7 separate regions of the Homo sapiens genome follow, and all the other regions are reported to be linked to region 1. Evidence: microRNA targets listed by miRTarBase, many of them from high-throughput screens and not tested one by one. Region 1 holds a microRNA gene; each other region holds the end of a gene's coding sequence.
The links. The annotated mature microRNA hsa-miR-130b-3p reads CAGUGCAAUGAUGAAAGGGCAU and lies in region 1 at 2,299-2,320, shown strand. An mRNA with a match to its seed (bases 2 to 7 or 8) in the 3' UTR can be bound and repressed. Matches are read on the target gene's strand: a 7mer-m8 pairs with bases 2 to 8, a 7mer-A1 pairs with bases 2 to 7 and ends in A, and an 8mer does both.

Region 2: the mRNA of BLCAP is a reported target of hsa-miR-130b-3p. Seed matches in the 3' UTR shown: 7mer-m8 at 2,375-2,381.
Region 3: miRTarBase lists ZNF224 as a target of hsa-miR-130b-3p. Seed matches in the 3' UTR shown: 7mer-m8 at 1,359-1,365.
Region 4: miRTarBase lists SGMS1 as a target of hsa-miR-130b-3p. The part of its 3' UTR that is shown has no 7-base or 8-base seed match.
Region 5: the mRNA of UBE2D3 is a reported target of hsa-miR-130b-3p. Seed matches in the 3' UTR shown: 7mer-m8 at 2,196-2,202.
Region 6: miRTarBase lists NKD2 as a target of hsa-miR-130b-3p. The part of its 3' UTR that is shown has no 7-base or 8-base seed match.
Region 7: miRTarBase lists GPATCH8 as a target of hsa-miR-130b-3p. Seed matches in the 3' UTR shown: 7mer-m8 at 1,087-1,093.

What each region holds. Positions count from the first base shown.
Region 1 is chr22:21,651,056-21,654,151 of GRCh38, forward strand. It overlaps MIR130B (microRNA 130b), which reads left to right and starts at 2,249; the gene lies at 2,249-2,330. It overlaps MIR301B (microRNA 301b), which reads left to right and starts at 1,926; the gene lies at 1,926-2,003. It also overlaps the pseudogene LOC107985532. RefSeq lists enhancers at 711-1,381, 1,382-2,053, 1,590-1,639.
Region 2 is chr20:37,516,035-37,519,130 of GRCh38, forward strand. It overlaps BLCAP (BLCAP apoptosis inducing factor), which reads right to left. Exons shown (of 2, transcript NM_006698.4): 2 at 1,383-3,096. The coding sequence ends at 2,877. Among named protein-coding and RNA genes, the nearest start is that of NNAT, 3.7 kb to the right of the region's middle. RefSeq lists an enhancer at 2,561-3,096.
Region 3 is chr19:44,107,618-44,110,695 of GRCh38, forward strand. It overlaps ZNF224 (zinc finger protein 224), which reads left to right. Exons shown (of 6, transcript NM_001321645.3): 6 at 1-2,209. The coding sequence ends at 667. ZNF225-AS1 (ZNF225 and ZNF224 antisense RNA 1) reads right to left here. Exons shown (of 2, transcript NR_033341.1): 2 at 1-720. Among named protein-coding and RNA genes, the nearest start is that of ZNF225-AS1, 4.0 kb to the right of the region's middle.
Region 4 is chr10:50,304,657-50,307,752 of GRCh38, forward strand. It overlaps SGMS1 (sphingomyelin synthase 1), which reads right to left. Exons shown (of 11, transcript NM_147156.4): 11 at 944-2,665. The coding sequence ends at 2,486. Among named protein-coding and RNA genes, the nearest start is that of ASAH2, 55 kb to the left of the region's middle.
Region 5 is chr4:102,794,887-102,797,982 of GRCh38, reverse strand. UBE2D3 (ubiquitin conjugating enzyme E2 D3) reads left to right here. Exons shown (of 8, transcript NM_181891.3): 8 at 523-3,096. The coding sequence ends at 568. The region is part of intron 4 of LOC102723704 (a long non-coding RNA gene); the gene reads right to left. Among named protein-coding and RNA genes, the nearest start is that of UBE2D3, 31 kb to the left of the region's middle.
Region 6 is chr5:1,038,175-1,041,254 of GRCh38, forward strand. NKD2 (NKD inhibitor of Wnt signaling pathway 2) reads left to right here. Exons shown (of 10, transcript NM_033120.4): 10 at 1-769. The coding sequence ends at 199. Among named protein-coding and RNA genes, the nearest start is that of MIR4635, 23 kb to the right of the region's middle. RefSeq lists an enhancer at 457-1,231.
Region 7 is chr17:44,394,853-44,397,852 of GRCh38, reverse strand. It overlaps GPATCH8 (G-patch domain containing 8), which reads left to right. Exons shown (of 8, transcript NM_001002909.4): 8 at 1-2,572. The coding sequence ends at 285. Among named protein-coding and RNA genes, the nearest start is that of ITGA2B, 6.7 kb to the right of the region's middle. RefSeq lists an enhancer at 1-373.

The sequences.
Region 1 (3,096 bases):
GAGGAACCCAACAGTGCACAAGTGGGAATCCCTGGGCAACCAAAGCCCATGCTGTGGGAGCAGATAAGATTGTTCCAGGCAGAATGCAGGACAAGGCCAAAAATAAAAACTGTAGTGGCAGCAGAACTCACTTTCAGTGAACACTTACTAAATGCCAGGTGCTGGGCCAACAATTTACACAGCATCTCATTTGCTGCTGGCAACAGCCAGCCCTATGGGGCAGGTTTGATTGCCATCTCAATTTTGCAAGAAGGCAACAGGGGTTCATAAAGATTCAAAACCACCTCTGCCTGCCTCAAAAACATTTGCTCTCAGCCATTGGACCGATAATAAAGCAGGAGGGGTTGCAGGGGCACAGTTGTCTAAGCACAGCTCCTCCCTTCCCTCTAGGAGCCGTTCAACAGCCCGGTGATCAATATACTTCCTAGTCATCAGCGAAGGGTAGGCGCTTAATGAATGCTTCTCCGCAAAGTGGATCACAATCACGAAGAAACCAAAGCTTACACTTCCGTTCCCCATATCTCCCACAGATCCAAAAGACCACGGGGCCCAGGACCCGGTCTCCATAGCCCAGCCATACCCGGGGGTTTTCAGGAAAGCCTCACTCGCGTCCTGCCGGGCGATCCGGGGTGGTTGAGTTGGGAGGGGGGCTACCCCAGTTTGTAAGCCCACCACGTCCAAATATCCCATCCAGGAGGCGCAGAGAGCAACCTCAGCATGCATAACAAAGCAGCCCGCGGCCGCGTTCACAGCAGGCTTGGCGGGGGTTCGGGAATTTCCACAGGGTCTCGGCCTCCCCCACTGTGGGCTCGCGCCTGGCGCCCCTCACCGGGCTTCCAAGCGCTCTTGTCGGTGTCGCTAGAAAACTCGCAGAGATTGGAGCTGAGAAAAGGCGGGCAAAGTTCCTTTTGATAAGTTATGAATGGGGAAAAAGTGTTTGTAGAACTCATTGTTAAAACCACGGAGCCCGAGACTCGGCCGGCGCCGGGCCAATCGGAACCCGGAGGCTATTTTGAAATCTCTCCCGTCTCAGCCAACAGGCATGCAGGAGGCGAATCCCCGCGCCAGCGCCGGCCAATGAGCGCAGCGCTATGCTAAGGAGTCGGGGGCCCGGCCCCTCCGACTGTCAGCGGGTTAAAGATGGAGCCGGCAGGCGAGGGGCCGCCACGAGGTGCAGGGTCGTCTGGACGGGGACCCGGGGGCAGACGATGGCCGGGATCCTCTTCCGTCTAACCCTCCGCGTCCTGACCGGGCCCTGGGCGGAAGGGATGTCTGCGTGAGTCAGCTGTGTCTGAGGAGGGGATCCTGGGCTGGGCTGGGCGGCCCTACTCGGCGGGTCAGGCGGAGGGGCGCGGCCGGGATCCCGGGGGCCCTCTTTGGAGCAGGGAACTCTAGAAGGGCGGGGAGCCCCCATCCTCTGCTCCACTCTGGGCCTCCAGGCAGAAGAATATGTTAGAAAAGAATCCAGAGTGTATCTAGTGCAGGGCAAGGGGCCAGGGATGGAGTCGTCAGCTAGAAGGGGCGCGTCGTCCCGGGGTGGGGCCGCCCTTTTTCTCCTGGAGCCGCGGGCCGAGTCAGGGCGCAGGGTCGTCGGGCTGTACCCACCCCGCTCCGGGCGCTAGCCGGCTTTGGACTGCGGCTGAGTGCGGGTTCGTCTTTGTGTGTGCGCCCCCTCCCCTGCGTGGCCCGTCAGCTCCTGCTCCGGGATTGGAACAACCCCCTAGTCTGGGGTTTCTCCTCCACCTCAATCCGGAGCGTTCTGGGAAAGGCCTGGGTGTCCTGGGTTCTGAAGACCCCAGGGACGCACCCCGCTGCGGTCTCCTTCCCTGCCCGGATGGACTGGACGGGGGCTCTGCCCCACCCACCCATCCATGGTTGAGCTTCCCGCCCTGCGTGTATTGGGGGTGGTGGGGTCCCCCCTGCTGGCCGCAGGTGCTCTGACGAGGTTGCACTACTGTGCTCTGAGAAGCAGTGCAATGATATTGTCAAAGCATCTGGGACCAGCCTTGGGGATCTCCCTCCCTATAACCCTCACCTCCCACTCCCCAGGCAGGGCCCCTTGGGCTTGCAGGCCCTCCCCTCCCCCCTACCCAATTCGCTCCCTTCTCCATGGAAACTTGAGATTCTAGACAGGCCTGGGCCTCTGGGGTCAGAGGGCACCCTTTCCCCCCGGGCAGAGGCCCCGCCCCAGCCAGCCTGCATTCCAGGTCTCAGATCCCTGCAGACCACCCTGGGGGAGGCACTGGCAGGCCTGCCCGACACTCTTTCCCTGTTGCACTACTATAGGCCGCTGGGAAGCAGTGCAATGATGAAAGGGCATCGGTCAGGTCCAGCCTGCTACCCTGGGAGGGGGAAAGGGAGCTTGCTGCCTCACTCCACTTTCCAGTTGAGAAGGTTGAGGTGCCCAGAGGGTAAGTGTTTCCACTGATTAGGCACAGATGTGAAGCTGGACTGGACCCTCCATCAGAGGATCAGGTGGGTGCAGAGCTGGAGAATCATCCCTAAACTCTCCATCCTGTCATGGCTGGACAGGTGCAGGAGCAGACCTCCCCAGCTTCTGAAAAGCTCTTGTTTGAAGGTCTTTCCACATTGGGTCCCTGGGGTAAGACTGGAACTCCAGGCCTGGTCAGGGTCTTAGGGGAAATACACGCCCAGTCTTTTGCATGGAAGATCATTCTAGGCCTGGCTTGGGCCCAGTCCTTGCTGGAAGCTTGAACAGGGCCAGGCTCTGGAGAGAATGTTCTTCTGGGTGGCAGTTGGGTAAGGGGGTAAGGCAGGCCTTTCAGGAGGCAGCCTTCACCCCAGGACGTCAGCTGGAGTGGTACTATGGACTGACCAGTTGACTGATCAGTTGAGTGGACTCAGCTGGAGTGGTACTATGTGAGATGGATGGGTGGACTTGGGATACAAAGCCTGCAAATGATGTCTACCAACCATGCCAGTTTGTTCTCTTACAGAGAGGTGTGCCCTGAACCTGCAGGAGGGACTGAGGTGTCTAACATTCCAACCGTCCCAGCTGGAATACAGGGTTGGAGCTGAACTTCCAAGGAGCCTGACCCCAGGCATGCTTGGATGACCACCTCTACCATCAAGACC
Region 2 (3,096 bases), not on the chromosome of region 1:
GGCAAGGTAGGAAGCACTGTGGGGTGACAGAATGCTGATTTGGCAGTCACTTTGGGAAGGGGTGGGCTGCAGGCTCCCTGCTGGAAAGGGCCACAAATCTTTCAGAGGGAGGCCTGTTTGTGACTCTTAAGCGGGCTTGACCTAAAACAGAAAGCTGCTTTCCGAGGGAGAGCAAAATAAGCAATAATCTTGGCTTCATTTATCATCCAGGTGTCGCCACAGGAGAGTAGGGACACAAAAGCCTTTTTTTTGTTTGTTTTGTTTTTGGAATTTGCAATTGTCTATTTTGTTAAGTCTTCCCACTAGGCTACAATCATGAGCTCCTGAAGAGTCAGGTCTGAGTCTTGCCCCTGAAATCCCCAGCAAGCCTAGTACAGGGTCTCAATGTTTGTTGAACAAACCATCCTTTCCAGGTATGACTCCTCAGCTTGTCAAGACTTTGCAGAACCACGAAATCTATCCAGAAACACAGAAAAGAAGAATTCAGAGATAAAAGCATAAAAGAATCAGGTAAGAAAATTACCCAGCAGATATGATCGATAAAAGTTTGGTTCTTTGAAAATACCTCTAAAATAGACAAATCTTTGGCAAGTTTTGAATGAAAAAAGGAATAAAGTGACAATGGGGAGACTTAAGTGAACAGGAGAAAACCATACTCAATTTTATAGCAACAAATTTAAAGCCTAGGTAGAACAGGTGATCTTCTATGAAATTACCAAAGCCCTTCACGACTGTGACTCAATAAAACCTCACGACAGCCCTGTGCCTTGGACAGGCAGTATTCCTACCATGCTTTCTAGAAGAAGGAGATTCAGAGGTGAATACTCAGCACAGGACCTGACAAACTAGCCTACACTGTCTCAAAGGTCATGGCCATGGGAGCACGTGCATACCTACAACATGGAACCACACCACTCTCGGCACTTCCAGCCATCACCTTACATCCGGCTGGTTGGACAGCCAGTCTTATTTATTTTTCCACTTGAAATGCCATAAGGGGTTTCACTATTTTTACTTCAAAAGCAGCACCATAAAAATCCTTGATGATTAGAGCTCCAGCTGTCTTAAGTTGTTTGTCAAGGGATCGGTTACTCAAATCTCCTATGGAGGGAAACAATTTCAGGCAAGAAGCCATGGGAGCTGAGAAACGCAAATGTCTCATCTCTGAAAACTTTCAGACTCCCTCCTGTTCACCGCCTGTCCTGCCCCCTGCTCCCCCTCCCCCATCCCCACCATCTGCTCTCCAGAAAGCAGATCAAATTTTCAGGCTAAGGTACTCTGGCGCCAAAGACTCAGCCCCTCCATGCTTCCCCCTGCCCCCCACCAACTCCGAAATCCAACACCACGACCCAAATGGACTGCAGCCACATAAAACCACAAAGTAAAGTTTATAAAGCTTTATTAAACATTTCAAACAGCTGTGCAACGAACACACCAAATAAAAGCTCTAGAATAGCAGTCCAGACGTTTCACAAGTATGGCCTCACAGTCCCATTCCCTAGATGGACTGCCTCCAGTTCTGTTCTCTGCCTGGCCCATCTCTCTTTCCCCTCAGGCAAGAGAGAGATGGATGGATCAGACTGAAAGGACAGGCATGCTGATCTCCAGCAGGCAGGGGCCAGGAGAAAGTCTCGTTTGCCAACACTTGTTACTGAAGCGCAGAAAAAGCAGCAAGTGACAGTCACAAAGTCTTCCTGGGTATTCTTCATAATGTACAGTCTATATGCGCAGGAACGAAGAAGCTCCTGGCGGGAGGATGATGGCCACTGCTCCCCTCTGTCTTGTCTGAACCACCTCGGAGTCCAGTGTGCTGGTCACTCTGCAATCCCCATGCTAAATAAAAACTGTAGCGGCACCTACCATATATAGCTAGCTATTGCTAAACCTCAAAATCAGACCACGTTCGATAAAGCTTCTTTAAAAGGAATATACACATGTATTTGTACACACACACACACAGGGCACACCAAAAAATATCCAAACATCTATCAAGGGGATCAAGGCCGTTACGAAACACACAGGTACTCTCCCACTCACTCAGCTGGGGACTGCTAGAACTACGTGAACACACCATACTTCAATGCTGCAGAGCATGCACGGGAGACACAATGAGGCCCCCTCCTTGGGACAGTTGAGAAAGGCAGGAGGAAGGGCAAAGGAAGTGAGGCTGGGCGGGAAAGCTTGAGCCCAGACACCCAGGTGAAAGAGCAACATCTATCTGTTGCTTCCTTTCTTAAAAATGAAGTGGAGAAAATACTGAAGATTTGTGGACAACTAACAGTCAAGACATGTTTCTGTCTAGCCTGCTGAACAAGGAAAGAAGGATGAAAAAGCGAGGCTCTCGGGCGTCAGCAATCTCTTCAAATTCGAGATAAGTGCAAAAATGAGCCCTGTCTTGGACAGGTACTCCCCAAAAAAGGAAAAGGGTAGAAGAGAAATAAAGGGAAACCAGAAGAGGGACTGAGGAGTCAGTAACATTCTGGGAAGGAAGGAGACCCTGACAAGGAGGGGTCACAGAGGTGACAATGAGACTGGCATTTTATCTGCCCCAGGTCACATTGGGGCAGCTGACCAGGATGGACCCAGACTCCTCACAGTAATGAGGCGAGAGGGGTGGTCATGCGGCCAGCCAGGACCTAGATGGGGACAGAACACACACAACCACAAGACCACCCACGACTATAGGACTTTACAATAAAAGCACCGGTCAGTGCCATTATTCACATTGTAAGGATAAAACATCACAGGCCAAAAAGGCGCCGTCAGGAATGTGACACCCGCGAGGCTGCGGGATTTGAAACTCCAATGCTTTATGACCTATGTCAATGCCTCCCCTCCCGTCTTCTGCTTCCTTGGAAAGCTAACAGGGCAGGCCGTTAGGTGCCCACAACGCCGGGATCATGCGCCGATTCTGGAAGCGGGGAATCGGAGCAGTGGTACAGGAAACAGTTTCCCCAGCAGCTATAGCAGATAAGGAACAGGGCTGCCAGGAAAACCAAGGCACAAATTGTGCAAGGCTTCCGTTCCAGGAGGAAGCTGAGCAGGTAGAAGCCCATGAACATGGAGTGGCTGAACCACAGGGCGGGGTTGAGGGGC
Region 3 (3,078 bases), not on the chromosome of region 1:
TGAAGAGTGTGGGAAGAGATTTACTCAAAATTCACATCTTCATTCCCATCAGAGAGTTCACACTGGAGAAAAGCCATACAAATGTGAGAAGTGTGGAAAGGGCTACAATAGTAAGTTTAATCTTGATATGCACCAGAAGGTCCACACAGGAGAGAGACCATACAATTGTAAGGAATGTGGGAAGAGTTTTGGCTGGGCCTCGTGTCTTTTGAAACATCAGAGACTGCACAGTGGAGAAAAACCATTCAAATGTGAAGAGTGTGGGAAAAGATTTACTCAGAATTCACAGCTTCATTCTCATCAAAGAGTGCACACTGGAGAAAAGCCATACAAATGTGATGAGTGTGGGAAGGGCTTCAGCTGGTCCTCAACTCGTCTGACCCATCAGAGACGCCACAGCAGAGAAACACCTCTCAAATGTGAGCAGCATGGGAAGAACATTGTACAGAATTCATTCTCTAAAGTGCAAGAAAAAGTTCACAGTGTAGAAAAGCCATACAAATGTGAGGACTGTGGGAAGGGCTACAACAGGCGCTTGAATCTTGATATGCATCAGAGGGTCCACATGGGAGAGAAAACATGGAAGTGTAGGGAGTGTGATATGTGCTTTAGTCAGGCCTCAAGCCTTCGACTTCATCAGAATGTTCATGTTGGAGAAAAACCTTAGTGATGTGATGGTGCAATAAAGTCTTCACTCAGTCTTCATGAATGCAGTCTCATCTGAAAGTTCACAAAGGAGAGACACATTAAAATATGAGGCACATAGTAAGCACTTCCCTTTGAGTATTTTATCTCTGAATCCATGCTGGTGATAAATTTCACCCATTCTTGGAAGAGGGAAAACATTTGTTTAAGATAACATCAGTGCTTCAGCCATAGCTCAGCATGCCCCAGTAGTCTCAGGACCACCATAATGGAGAATCCTTGTAAATGGTGCAATAAAGCTTCATTCAGAAGTTTGATAATTACAGCTATCATTCAGGAGACAGGCCTTAGAAAGAGTAAGAGTTCATGAATTTACCAGACTAATGGTGGACATGTCCAAATTGATGTCCACTAGAATGTAAACTACATGTGTCTTTGCTGCTAAGTCGTCACAGCCTTAACATTGATTAGCACTTTGTATGTGTTCAGTACTTGTTTGTTAAATCAATGAAAGGATAAAACATATGTATGGATTTGGATACAATTTTGTGTATCCAAAAAGGGAAGCCTGCAAAAAATAATTCTGGGAAACATGAGTTGAAATGCAGAGTAAACTCAGTACTGCAATCCATAGCAATATTTTGCATATTATTATTTTTTCTTTTAAATTTTTTTCTTGATCAGATTTATCATATTCATTGAACATTATTTTATTGCACTTGGCTCCTGGCTTCCCCCCATCCTGTGCTCTGAAGTCAGAGTATTATTTGTGGCTCTATGAAATGTCCATTGCTTGTATACGGTATAAATTTAATTATCTTTTGTAGTTTTTCTCACAGTATAGACTGAAAAGGTTTGGTTAATTTTGCAATAACAGACCACTGCATATTTCACAATTAAGTGTTTTCAACAGTATTAAGGCAAGATTTACAGTAACACTTTTAAAGTGCCAGATGTACATTGACAGAAATTTTCTTAGTCAATCCTAGATTGATCATGATTTGTGATTTCTATGCAGGCCTTGGTATGATTGCCTTTTAATTGCTGTACAATTTCTTTTTTTTTTTTAACTTCTCTGGTATAAAATATTCTAAATTTGAATGACAGCTTTTGTCAACCTTCTTATCCAATATTCTTCCACCAACGCTATGAAACAGGAAGAGAAAATGGAGTTTGGTAATTTCATCAAATATATTCATTATTGGGGGCAGGAGTAACATTTAAATCCTCCTCTTTATTGCTGGCAGTAAAAATATGTCTTTTGGAGAGCAGAACATGCCAGAATGTATAAGGTGCAACTGTTTGATATGAAAACCATAGGATAGGAAACTATGCCTATGACACTAAAACTCCAAAAAGTAGAAGACCACATTGATGATGTCACTGCATTTTAAAATGGAAAGAACAAGTGTTCAAGAACAGGAATTTGTGTGAATTGCATTTATTCCTATAATAATATGAACTCAATGAGATGATGACATAGACACAATAACAAAAGGAGAAAAACAATGTGGCTTTTTTTAGCCTTCATAACCTAATCAAATAAATATCTTTGTGTGTTTTATGTTCTTTTGAGTGTTTACATACTGTGTAAATGAATATTTTTACTGATCTTTGCTGGCAATGAGTGTTTGCAGGCATTTTTCCATTTTATACTTCCATGCATTTTTAATTTTTTTATGCCACGATCTTTTAAACAACCAGCTCTTGTGTGAATTAAGAGTGCGAACTCATTCATTACCATGGTGGGGACACCAATGTTTATGAAGGATCTGCTTCCATGACCAAGCACCTTCCAATAGTCCCGACCTCCAACACTGGAGGTCATACTTCAACATGAGATTTGGAGGGGATACATATTCAAACTATTGTCAGATGTTAATTCATCAGGTATACACCATAGTAATATCTTAAGTGTGTTAAGTTAAAGTGATATATTTTCTAAGGTATAGAACAAATAGGGCTTATCACCCCCCTACAAGCAAAGAAAATGTCACAATGCTTAGTGTGCCATTTTTGATATTGGATGCAACTTATTGTTTCGATTGTGCTACTCTGACTTTTATGAGTGACCCAAAAACTTTGACTTGTCCCAGACAAGAGAAGTTTGTGTAATATGTCCCAGCTTCCACGTAAGCTTCTCTGCCACTAAAACCCTGTGACCCCGGGGGTCCAAAAGTGTTTGAAATGTCCGTGGCAGATAGTATGTTTGAAGCCTATGGTTGGCCCTAATTGGAGAATCAAAATTCAGATGCTTAGTATTTTGAAGCAAATTTCTGCCATCCTCTGCATATACTTACTCTCCTCTGGAGAAGAAGCTTTTCATTTTGCTAGGGTGTTTTGTTTTGTTTTGTTTTTGTTTTTGTTTTTTGAGACGAGTCTTGCTCTGTGGCCCAAGCTAGAGTGCAGTGGTGCAATCTTGGCTCACTGCAA
Region 4 (3,096 bases), not on the chromosome of region 1:
AGTTAAATAAAGACCTATCCAAGGGTTTGGCTCTATTTGCCTAAAGAGGCCACCACATTTCCCCTGTCTGATACACAAGTTTAAAGCCCCACACAGGAAAAGTTTTACTGGTTCTAATTTCCTTTTTTTTTTTTTTCGGAGATAGAGTTTCACTCTTTTGCTGGGGCTGGAGTGCAGTGGCACGGTCATGGCTCACTGCAGCCTCTGTCTCCCGGCCTCAAGCGCTCCTCCCACCTGTCTCCTGAGAGGCTGGGACCACAGGCATGTATCACCGTGCCAGGTTAATTTTTGTATTTTTTGTAGAAACTGGGTTTCATATTGATCAGGCTGGTCTTAATCTCCTGGGTTCAAGTGATCAGCCCACCTCGGCTTCCCAAAGTGCCGGAATTACAGGCGTGAGCCACCACACCTGGCCTCTGGTTTTACATTTCTAGCCTCCTTAACACATCCTTTATCAAAGACACATCTCCACTGTTGACATTTTCCTTTAGTCACCACATCAGAAATAATAATAACCTTTTATTCTTTTTAAATAGTTATTTTCCATTACCACTGGTTTATCATAGTACTATTACTCTATTTCTCACTTTGGATTTACTTTTCCTTTCCATCTACACTGGAGAAGCTATATTACTGCCAGATATAGGAAAAAAAACAATTTGGTTGAGAATTAGAGAATTCAAAATGTTAGTAAACATTGTTCTAAAGTTTGAATTTAACTTACATGTGACTCTTTTTATATATTAAAAAACTCTCTAGAATTTACTAAAGATTAGAATATATTTTAAGGAATCCCAAGGAAAAAAATCCAGATAATTATTAAAAGTCCCATGTCAAGCAGAAACACTCCATGAAGAAATTCTGAAACTGATTTTCTATCTTGCTTTAATGGCTCCATTTATGACTTCTGTGAAGAATGTGAACACAGTAGAAATAACAGCCATTTATTTTAAGTATCAGTTTTTATTAAAAAGTGCATTTTGATTAATTTATGATCTAGGTAAGCTGTAAGATACCAGTATACTCTCTGGAATAATAACTTTACAAAGATTTAAAACAAACAAAATTTTAAAAGCCTTTTTATTTCCTTCACCATTATTGTTTTACAATACAAATATCACCTTGTGAATACACAAAAAAATCCTACGGAAGATAATTCTGCTGCACGTAAAATACAGAATGGATATATATACTTCTTCATTCTTAAAAAACTATTTTGTTCTCCACATTGGCAAGTATAGAATAGAATACTTCCCCAAACATATGTATGTTAGGAGTAAAACTTAGAGTTACATGCAGTTTCTGCACAAATATCTTTTAAAGAAATAGATCTCTTTTTTGTTGTTCACCAACAAAATTGTCATGAGAGTATGGATAACTAATTCATAGCTTTCAAGTTTTAGGTAAGTGATCATTTTCAAAACTCTCTTTAAGAAAAGATATTCATGGCTGTTTTCATTGAGTAGTTAAAATTGAACTACCAAATCGACGATAAAATAATTTAAGTGGTACATGTCATTGCTACCTGATCACAATATGTGAACAGGCTCTGACTCTAATTAACAACCTCATTATTTAAGTCATTGCAATTTTAAAACCATAAGCAGTCTTCTGATTCAATTTAGCTATAAATGCAAAATTTAGTAGTGTATACATATATTTATATTTTCAAGGAATACTTTATTTTAAATAAAAACATTTAAGATTGCCTACTGACCATACAATCAAGACAAGAAAGGCACTAGAAACATAGACAAATTTCTCTCCCAAGATGCATTTTTAAATTTTAACTCTCTTCTCTCTGACATGTTAAAAATCTTTAAATTTGGTGTTCATAACATCATTTTGAAAAATAAAGTTAGGAAATACTTAGAAAATCACTTTATAACAGAATCTTTTTTTTTGCACTTTTTGAAACACTGCCTTTGCTGATTTTACAAAACCCAAAGTTACCAAACCTTTCTGTGTCTATCATTTTTATTTGAATATCGGTGCAACAGGTAGAAAGATTTCAGAATCAAACCCCATTCAGGTACTTAGAAACCTTCATAGAGACATTTGCTAGAAAATGGCTTACAGCCCAATCTTTGGGGCAAGAGATATGAAAAGTATGTTTTCCCAAGAAAATAATACGCTTTATTTCCAGATGTGACTGGAAAGACCAGAACTTATGATATAAAAGCTTACATTTATGCTGCTGCATCATATACAAAGGAACATGGTGGTTGCGGGTTATGTAAATCCCAAACTTATGAACAGGAAATGTGTACAGTGCATGATAGGTTAAATTTTTCTTTATTGTTGTCCAACGCAGGTCCTTTGGAGAGAAAAAAAGATCACAGTGCTGACCAGGTAACTCAATAGGTTAAGTCAAGGTAACCATTGAAAGATAATAGGATTAGGGAGGTGTTTATTTTATGGCATCTTCTCTCATGGAGTTCTTAGCACTTCGGACAATTTGTCTTTTCCCCACTTTGTACAGCTGTTATGTGTCATTCACCAGCCGGCTGTATTTAACTTGCCTACTGAGGTGGACTACTGGCCAGGGGAAAGGCCAATGGTAAGATCGAGGTACAATTCCTTGGACATTCTTTTCAAAGTACTGAAATGGCCTGTACCACCACACCCTGGCCAGGAGGTTCATCTGGGAAGCTTCCTTTAGCACCTAGGATAACAAAGAAACATAAACACATTTCTTACAATCTTTCACTTTAAGTTCAAATACTTGCCACGCTAAAATTCCCAAAGGACTCCATACCTGCCCTGCGTGTCCACCCACATATCCCAGCTTCTCTCTCTCATCACCATTCTACACTCCACATTCATCTACAAACTGAGCCACATCCCAGTAGAAAAACAACGCCAATTCTGGGAGGGCAAGGAGAACTTATGGCTCACTCATCTCTTGCTTATAAATAAACACCTCAGTTAGCTTTTTAGGTATTCCTCTTCTATGCTAAAAATGTTAACACTTAATTAAATGTTAAATATTAAGCTTGTGATGTGCCCCGGGTAGGGAGAAGAGGATAGGAAAGCAAATCAAGCAAGGAGGGACACAAGCTTAGAAAATATTTTTCATTTTTCAAGGACAATGAA
Region 5 (3,096 bases), not on the chromosome of region 1:
GCCCAGTGTCATCTTCCCCTTCTGCCTCTACCTAAGTCCCAAAGCCATTTTTTCTTGTAATATCCAGGACCAAGTAATTTCCCAAACTCTAGGATTCAGATAAAATTGTTCTAGTAAAAGCCTAGTTCTGGCCTTGGTGGAAATTTCTGTGGATAGATAGAATGTGTATACTATTTTAACATTTGTCCATAATGAACTGTAAAAATTTCTTCACGTTAAAATTAGAGCATGAGCTCGGTGGTAGAGAAAGAAAGGGTCTTTTGATTTTTGTTAGCCTCCCAATTTTCAGTGCTGCTTTCTTAGTTGTTTTTAAAATACTACTTTCAGAGCATCAGGCTCTCATTTCCCACATTGCTTTGAGTACCAGTGCTATTTCTCCCTTGTTGGCTTTTATTCTAATCATAGTCATTAGAGATGACTTCATGATGAGTCTGGAGATGATAAAATGGAAATCTTTCCCTTCCATTTAAAGTATTAGGAATTCTTTATTTTAACTTTTAAAAATAACATCTTTATTTACAGGTACAACAGAATATCTCGGGAATGGACTCAGAAGTATGCCATGTGATGCTACCTTAAAGTCAGAATAACCTGCATTATAGCTGGAATAAACTTTAAATTACTGTTCCTTTTTTGATTTTCTTATCCGGCTGCTCCCCTATCAGACCTCATCTTTTTTAATTTTATTTTTTGTTTACCTCCCTCCATTCATTCACATGCTCATCTGAGAAGACTTAAGTTCTTCCAGCTTTGGACAATAACTGCTTTTAGAAACTGTAAAGTAGTTACAAGAGAACAGTTGCCCAAGACTCAGAATTTTTAAAAAAAAAAATGGAGCATGTGTATTATGTGGCCAATGTCTTCACTCTAACTTGGTTATGAGACTAAAACCATTCCTCACTGCTCTAACATGCTGAAGAAATCATCTGAGGGGGAGGGAGATGGATGCTCAGTTGTCACATCAAAGGATACAGCATTATTCTAGCAGCATCCATTCTTGTTTAAGCCTTCCACTGTTAGAGATTTGAGGTTACATGATATGCTTTATGCTCATAACTGATGTGGCTGGAGAATTGGTATTGAATTTATAGCATCAGCAGAACAGAAAATGTGATGTATTTTATGCATGTCAATAAAGGAATGACCTGTTCTTGTTCTACAGAGAATGGAAATTGGAAGTCAAACACCCTTTGTATTCCAAAATAGGGTCTCAAACATTTTGTAATTTTCATTTAAATTGTTAGGAGGCTTGGAGCTATTAGTTAATCTATCTTCCAATACACTGTTTAATATAGCACTGAATAAATGATGCAAGTTGTCAATGGATGAGTGATCAACTAATAGCTCTGCTAGTAATTGATTTATTTTTCTTCAATAAAGTTGCATAAACCAATGAGTTAGCTGCCTGGATTAATCAGTATGGGAAACAATCTTTTGTAAATGCAAAGCTGTTTTTTGTATATACTGTTGGGATTTGCTTCATTGTTTGACATCAAATGATGATGTAAAGTTCGAAAGAGTGAATATTTTGCCATGTTCAGTTAAAGTGCACAGTCTGTTACAGGTTGACACATTGCTTGACCTGATTTATGCAGAATTAATAAGCTATTTGGATAGTGTAGCTTTAATGTGCTGCACATGATACTGGCAGCCCTAGAGTTCATAGATGGACTTTTGGGACCCAGCAGTTTTGAAATGTGTTTATGGAGTTTAAGAAATTTATTTTCCAGGTGCAGCCCCTGTCTAACTGAAATTTCTCTTCACCTTGTACACTTGACAGCTGAAAAAAAACAACATGGGAGTAATAATGGGTCAAAATTTGCAAAATAAAGTACTGTTTTGGTGTGGGAGTTGTCATGAGGCTGTGTTGAAGTGACTTATCTATGTGGGATATTGAGTATCCATTGAAATGGATTTGTTCAGCCATTTACATTAATGAGCATTTAAATGCAACAGATATCATTTCAGGTGACTTAACATGAATGAATAAAAGTCAATGCTATTGGATTGTTTTTTGTTTGACAAGTGCTATCTGTGCCACTGATTTAACTTCTGTAGTAACAAGGGCATTACCATTCTTCACCTTTCCTAATTCTGATCCCATAGTTTTACATTTTTCCTGTTTATTTTGATTTTGTTCACTGCTTTATTTCTTAAAGTTCTAGCACATCTGTGACTCCTCCACTTCCACATTTTTGCACTGCTTACACTTACGTGCAATCTTATTCCTTGTCTGCACACACATGTGGAAAGCTAGAAATAAATGTTAAAACTTACTTTTTATAAACATTTTAATATGTAGTTTGGACATGATTTATTGACTTAAGGTTCTTCTCTAAACTGGAAGTGAAATGCATGCCTTCTGAAGATGTTCTGGCTTTGTTAATTCTGTAATCATTTCATTGGGGAAAAAACCAGCTACGCAGTTTTTCCAATGAGTGAATTTTTTCATTTTGTGTTTTGCTTAAAACGGCTCCTTCAGGGTAGATGTCATACTGCATAACTTTTTTGGATTCAAATTATGAATGAGAAATTAGTTAACATTCTGCTCCACAAGGTAAGAAAAACTGCTCTTTGGCTCTATTTTCAAAATTACTTCTGAGATGCATATAGTCTCAAAATAACAGCTTTAGTAGGCATATCACTTCTTGAAAGCCAAACATGAGTGTAAGACACTTTTATGAAACACGGTGGATCCCTAACTGGCTTTCAAATTGACCTTTATAGCCTTAGACAACCCTTAGGTATTTACGGAGATGACTTCTTTGATTGTCATAACAATTAGTGGATGTGTCCAGTTCTCTGTATCTTTGACTTGATGCTTTATACATCATTTCATTTGTTGCTTCTAAGGGAATAAGCCATAGAGGCTTCTCCAGGTTTAAAAGAACAGTAAAGTACCTGGAAAACCAACATTTTTGAATGTATGGACACTGGACATGAGATATGTACAATGAAATCTTAAAAGAATCTAAGAATTTGCCCTCTTTGCCCCACTCCACCCAGTAATTTGACATTACTAGTGCCATGTATAGGACCCAACTGAGTATTAGAATCAGTTTTGACTATGTCTTTGTATTTCCTAAATCTTTTAAT
Region 6 (3,080 bases), not on the chromosome of region 1:
CCAAAAGGGCAGGGAGGGCCACTCGCCACTCAAGGCCCCACACGCTCAGCCTGCCACAGTGGAGCACGAGGTGGTGCGGGACCTGCCGCCCACGCCAGCAGGAGAGGGCTACGCGGTGCCAGTGATCCAGCGGCACGAGCACCACCACCACCACGAGCACCACCACCACCACCACCACCACCACTTCCACCCGTCCTAGCGCCACTGCCAAGCACACCTCGCTCCCAGCACACCACAGCCCGCGACCTCAGGGCAGGGAGCAGAGCAGCTGCCGGCTGTGTGCCCATGGGGAGCCCAGCCCCCACCCCCCACCTCCGACAGCAAACAGCAACTGACTGCAGGTGCTGGCATGATGGAGGTGGTGCACCTTGGACACGTGGACAAGGCCCAGGCGCCCTCTGCTCTTCTGCCCTCGATGCCACATGGCGGTGAACACATCTGAAGCCACTATGTTTCCTGGCTCTAAGGCTCGTCTGTGTAACCCATAAAACCTGCTTTGATTCCAAAATGAGGCCCTGGAGTGCGCAAGGAGTGCCCGGATGCTTGGGGTGGGTGTTCCTCCCGGGGCTTCAAGGGGTGACTGCTGTAGGCTGTCCCAGTGCGAGGCCGGGAGCGAATGGAAAAGCTGAGGCTTTGCCTGGCTTGTGCATCATGAAGTGAGAGGGGACAGGGCCGGTGGGGGGAAGCAGCTTGTGCTTAGCAGGGAGCATCCGCGGCTCCCCGCAGGAGGCCAAGCAGCAGAAGGCAGCAGTGCTAGAAAGAGAAGTGCCAGAGTAGGGAGTGCAGACCAGTGAGGAGGGGCCACAGGGCACAGGGGGAGCCCACACCAGTGAGGAGGGGCCACAGGGCAGCATGCGGCAGTGGAGGTAGCCCCTGGTCCCGGAGCCACAGCAGCTCAGGTGCATGCAGGACACAGTCAAGGCGGGGAGGGGCAGGGCAACAGATGCTGGGGAGAGGGAGAGGCTCGCGCTGGGTGCGGCTCAGAACACGGGGACTTGCACATTCACGGTCCCAACACTCACGGGGCGACTTCTGTGACATGTCAGCTTTGGAGAAAGGTGTGTCCTGCAAGGGTCAGGAGACGGTTGCAGGCCAGAAGGACGTCCCAGTGACGTTTCGGAGTCTTGCAGCCTGCAGGGGTCCATGTGGTTACCCGGAACAGGAACCGTGGGGGTGCTTTCCGGGACCCAGGGGGCCCGTGCCAATGTTTCTGAGTCTTGGAGCCTGCAGGGGTCCACGTGTTTACCCTGAACAGGAACATGCGGGTGTTTTCCGGAATCTGGCGAGGCCGCGCGGCAGTTTTGCATTTACATTCCTTGTTTTGTTTTTAAGGATAAAGCGGTGCTGGGTGGGGTCTGTGGGAGGGGTTTGAGCCATGGCGGAAGATCCCTGGTGAATGGCTTGGATGTTTGTCGCCTCCGAGTCTCATGCTGAGACGTGATCCGTGGTGCTGGGTGGGGTCTGTGGGAGGGGTTTGAGCCATGGCGGAAGATCCCTGGTGAATGGCTTGGATGTTTGTCGCCTCCGAGTCTCATGCTGAGACGTGATCCGTGGTGCTGGGTGGGGTCTGTGGGAGGGGTTTGAGCCATGGCGGAAGATCCCTGGTGAATGGCTTGGATGTTTGTTGCCTCCAAGTCTCATGCTGAGACGTGATCCGCAGTGCTGGGTGGGGTCTGTGGGAGGGGTTTGAGTCATGAGGACAGATCCCTGGTGAATATGGCTTGGCGCCCTTGCCGTGGTGATGAGTGAGCTCTCATTCGGTGTTTGTGGGAGATCTGGTTCTTTAGAGCAAGGGCCACAACCCCCAGGCTGTGGACTGCTACTGGTTTGTGGCCTGTTAGGAACGGGCCTCACAGCATGGGGTGGGCGGTGGTGAGTGAGCATGAGTGCCTGAGCCCCGCCTCCTGTTAGATCAGAGGCGGGATTAGATCCTGATGGGTGCTCGAACCCTGTTGTGAACTGCGCATACGAGGGATCTAGGTTGTGTGTTCCTTATGAGAATCTAATGCCTGATGATCGGAAGTGGAAGTTTCATTCTGAAACCATCCCCACACCCCGTCCGTGGAAAACTTGTCTTCCACAAAACCAGTCCCTGGTGGCAAAAAGGTTGGGGACTGCTGGTTTAAAGGAACTGGCACCTCCCCCTCTCTCTCTTGCTCTGACCATGTGACATGCCTGCCCCTCCTTTGCCTCCTGTGTTGAGTGGAAGCTTCCTGAGGTCTCCCCAGAAGCTGAGCAGATGCGGGCACCATGCTTGTACAGCCTGCAGAACGGGGAGCCACATAAACCTCTTTTCTTTATAAATACCCCAGTGCCAGGTATTCTTTTATAGCAATGCCAAACAGACTAACACAGGAACCTCCCCCCCGTCAAAAACCCTACAAAAAACACATATGCACAAAAAGTGAGCCAGTGCTGAATGGTCTCGTTCATTAAACACCCACATGTAAAGATCAGTGTGTCTTGTCAGTTACGCTGCAGCAGCTTGGCCTGGGGCCAAGGGCGAATTGTGTGTGTGAAGCTGTTGGGTACCATGTCCAGCAGGCCTGGCACATGGTGGATGGGAAGGGACACAGCACAGGATGGCATCAGGTCCCTCTCTGGCTCCCGGGCCACACCTGTCGGGGGACATGGGTGCCACCAAAAGGAAGGCCGTGCTGTGCTGCAGGCAAGATGGAGGCAGAGGCTCCTCGGAGGACTCCCGGCACACAGCCTGCTCCTGGGGCAGCTCTACCTGCCGTTTGGCCCAGTCTTCCCACCATGCTGGCACCAGAAAGGCTTCACTGCAGGAGACCGGGTGACAAAGGTGACACACAGACAGAGGCCTGGGTCACAGAAACCAAGAGCCTTGTTCTTTCTTGTGTGAGTGTAGACTTTGACTACCAGATGATCTTGTCGCTGGACCAGCCTGTATCTGAATGAGTGGGAGTGACTTGGTGTAAATTAGTGAGTGAATGGGTGAAGGATGAGTGGGTGAATTAGGGAATGAATGAGTGAACGGGTGAATAAATGAATGGAACGGTGACTGAGTGAGTGAATGACAGTGGTGAGTGAGGGCTGAGGGGTAAATGAGTACATGA
Region 7 (3,000 bases), not on the chromosome of region 1:
CCCCAGCCCCATCTGACCCCCATTTCTTTGTCCCACCTCACTCACTCAATCATCCCTGGCCACCCTGCCACCTTTCTCGCTAGCCATCCCATCCACATCATTCCCGCCTCAGCCATCCATCCTGGGCCCTTCACCTTTCACCCTGTCCCACATGCTGCCCTCTACCCCACCCTACTTGCTCCACGGCCTGCTGCAGCAGCTGCCACTGCACTTCACCTTCACCCACTACTTCACCCCATCTTCTCAGGTCAGGACCTGCAACATCCCCCCAGCCATGGCACGTGAGTTGGGGGATGGGATCCTAGGTAGGGCCAGGGGAGGAGACCCATAAATGTTCCCTTGGGGGTGTTGAGCCATTAATACCAGCAAGTAGAAGCTGGGATGGGCAGTGTCTGACAGCCAAAGAATTGAGTTTTGGCTTGCAGGGGTGGGTTTAGATTTGAAGTTTGCTTTCAGTTTACTATCAGGGATTTCTTTTTCCTGTCCTCCTCTCAATTTGTCCCTCCCTCTTCTGTGTTTCTAAGCTAGGGAACACCAGTAAGTGCTACCCACCCCTCTGCAGCAACATCTCCAAACTGTCAAGTTTAGATAATCCCCTCCTCCCTCTGCTTTTTTCCTCTGCTCTTCCCTTCTGTAAATTTTAAAACATTTTCCTCCCCTCTGGCCAGTGGGTTGTCACCAGAGCACTTGCTGTGGGCCCATCTGGTCTTGCCTTCTCAGCGCCACAGGGAAGGCCAAGCTGTTCTAGTGGTGGAAGTGCCACCATTTTGGGGTAGTATCTTTGACCATCTTTGGTGACGTTACGTTATCCCAGGTGAGGTGGAAAGCGTCTCACCTGGAACCTGATATAACTCAGGCTGCAATTCCATCCAGTTCCCACATCAACGGAGCCACACATTTGGCACTGTTATCTTGGTATCCCTCATCCCAGAAGAGGCATCTCCATATCCCAGAAAAGAAGATCCTATCATGAATAAAAGCTGTATGGCCCAGAGAGGAGCTCATGTGTCTAAAGTGAAGGGTATATTTTCTTCTGTTGTGTTGATGTTTCCTTCTTAATTTATAGGATTTTTTTAATGTAAAAAATTGCACTGAACTCTATAAACGTAAATGCTGCTTTTTGTAGCTCATATAAAAAAGGTTCCATATTTGTAGTATACTGCAATAATATTTTTTACATCCAGCTCTTTAAGTGATCCTCGTTCTGGTGGCTTTGTGTAAATATGTTTGCCCTAGTTGAATTAAGAAACTCTAAAGGTTATAAAATGAAAACAAAAAATAAAATATTTGTTTTCTGCTAGATGCAAAACTGACTAAGCATGTATATTTTACCAAACTTATGTATTTTTTGAAGTTATGAACTATAAAATGTTAAAACATTTTTTGCTGGGACAAAATGTTAAGTAATTTGCAGTATGTAGTGCCCCCAGTATTGGGATTTTTGAGCTAATGGGCAGCAGTCAGCTGGGGGCTTCTGAGGGATGCTCATCTTTAACAGTCTCCCTCATGTACTTTTGCTGTTTTACACAGAGAAACAGGTAGACCCCACAGAGGAGAAGGAGGGGATTCAACAGCTTTATTGTCTGGAAGCAGTGAGATTTGGTGATTGTCTGGGGGGATTCCTGGGTTTCCCTGGGTACCTTGTTCCAGGCAGTCAGTCCATTTGCCTTCCTAGTACTTAGCCCCCTCTGACAATTTTTTTTTTAATGTGCCTTTTGGGTTGGTAGAAACGGAAGTAGAAGTAGGCTGGAGGATGAGTTGGGACAGTCTTCCTTTTGTTGGGAGGTGAGCACATTTACAGATATTTTGCTTCATAGTTTCCATGCCCTCTGCCCAGCTCAGTTTAGACAGTAAACGTTCCTTGTTTCTTTTCTCCCATGACACTGACAAGAGGAATTACCACCTCAGCCTCTTTTGCCCCTCTTCTTGCCTTTCACCCAGGCTCTCAGCCCTAATTAACACACTGACCCAAAGGTGCTTGTGTTGCAGGTCCCATCTCCTTTGATGAGGTTAACAATTCCCACTTTGGCATTTTCCTAACTATTCGTGTGGCTAGAATTGGTTGGTTGGTCACTTGACAAGAAAAACCATACTTACCTGGGCCAAGGCTCTGTTCCTGCCTTCGCAAATTCTCAAAAGAGTAAAGTTTATGAAAAGAAAGTGGCAGGCAAACACAACTCTTGACTGCCCTCCCACCCTCCTACCTGTTCAGTACTCATCTGATTCAGAAGCATCACTTCTTGGATAACTAGCACTGGAAAAATGAAATCATCTGTGTAAGTGAAGGGACTCATTTTTCTTTGCTTTCAGCCCATGTAAATAAATAATACAGTATTAACATTTTCGTGCTGCTTCCCATTAGCTTGTAGATTGAGCCATACTCTGGCTGCCTCTTTGCCTTCCTAGGGGCATTTTCTTTAACTTCCAGAATAGTGATTTTAAAAGTAAAAATAAAAATAAACCTTACTTACAAGCATAACAGATTGTATTTAACTTTATCACATATGATAGAGATATATATGCTGTAAAATGAGGGAAAGGAACTTTCTAATAAACCAATGATTTGTGGAAACTTAGCAGAGTCTGTCGTAATTGTTGCCCCATCCACTCAAAGTTAGGTAGGGTTGGAGGTGTGGGTTATAAATAACATCTTGTTTGACATGACCAAGGAATAGATTCCTGTGAACCAGTTAGAGATGTTTGCAGTTGTGCTTCTGAAAGCTCAGGCTACGCAAAGAGAGAGGAAAGATGATGGTGTGGGAGGTGGTAATAGTAGTTAATTTCTCTCAGTTGTAGGTAGATGTATTGGGATGTACACCTCCTTTCCACTTCCTCTTTCCCACAAGAGGAAAGATTTCCTTCCATTTTAGATATATAATCTGTGTGTAGTAGAATATATGGTGTATATATAGGTGCTTACTAAATGGGTGTGGAATTTCTGGCTTTGAATTTTAGGATTTTGGACTACTTTAAGGGCACTGAGATGACAAGAATCATCTG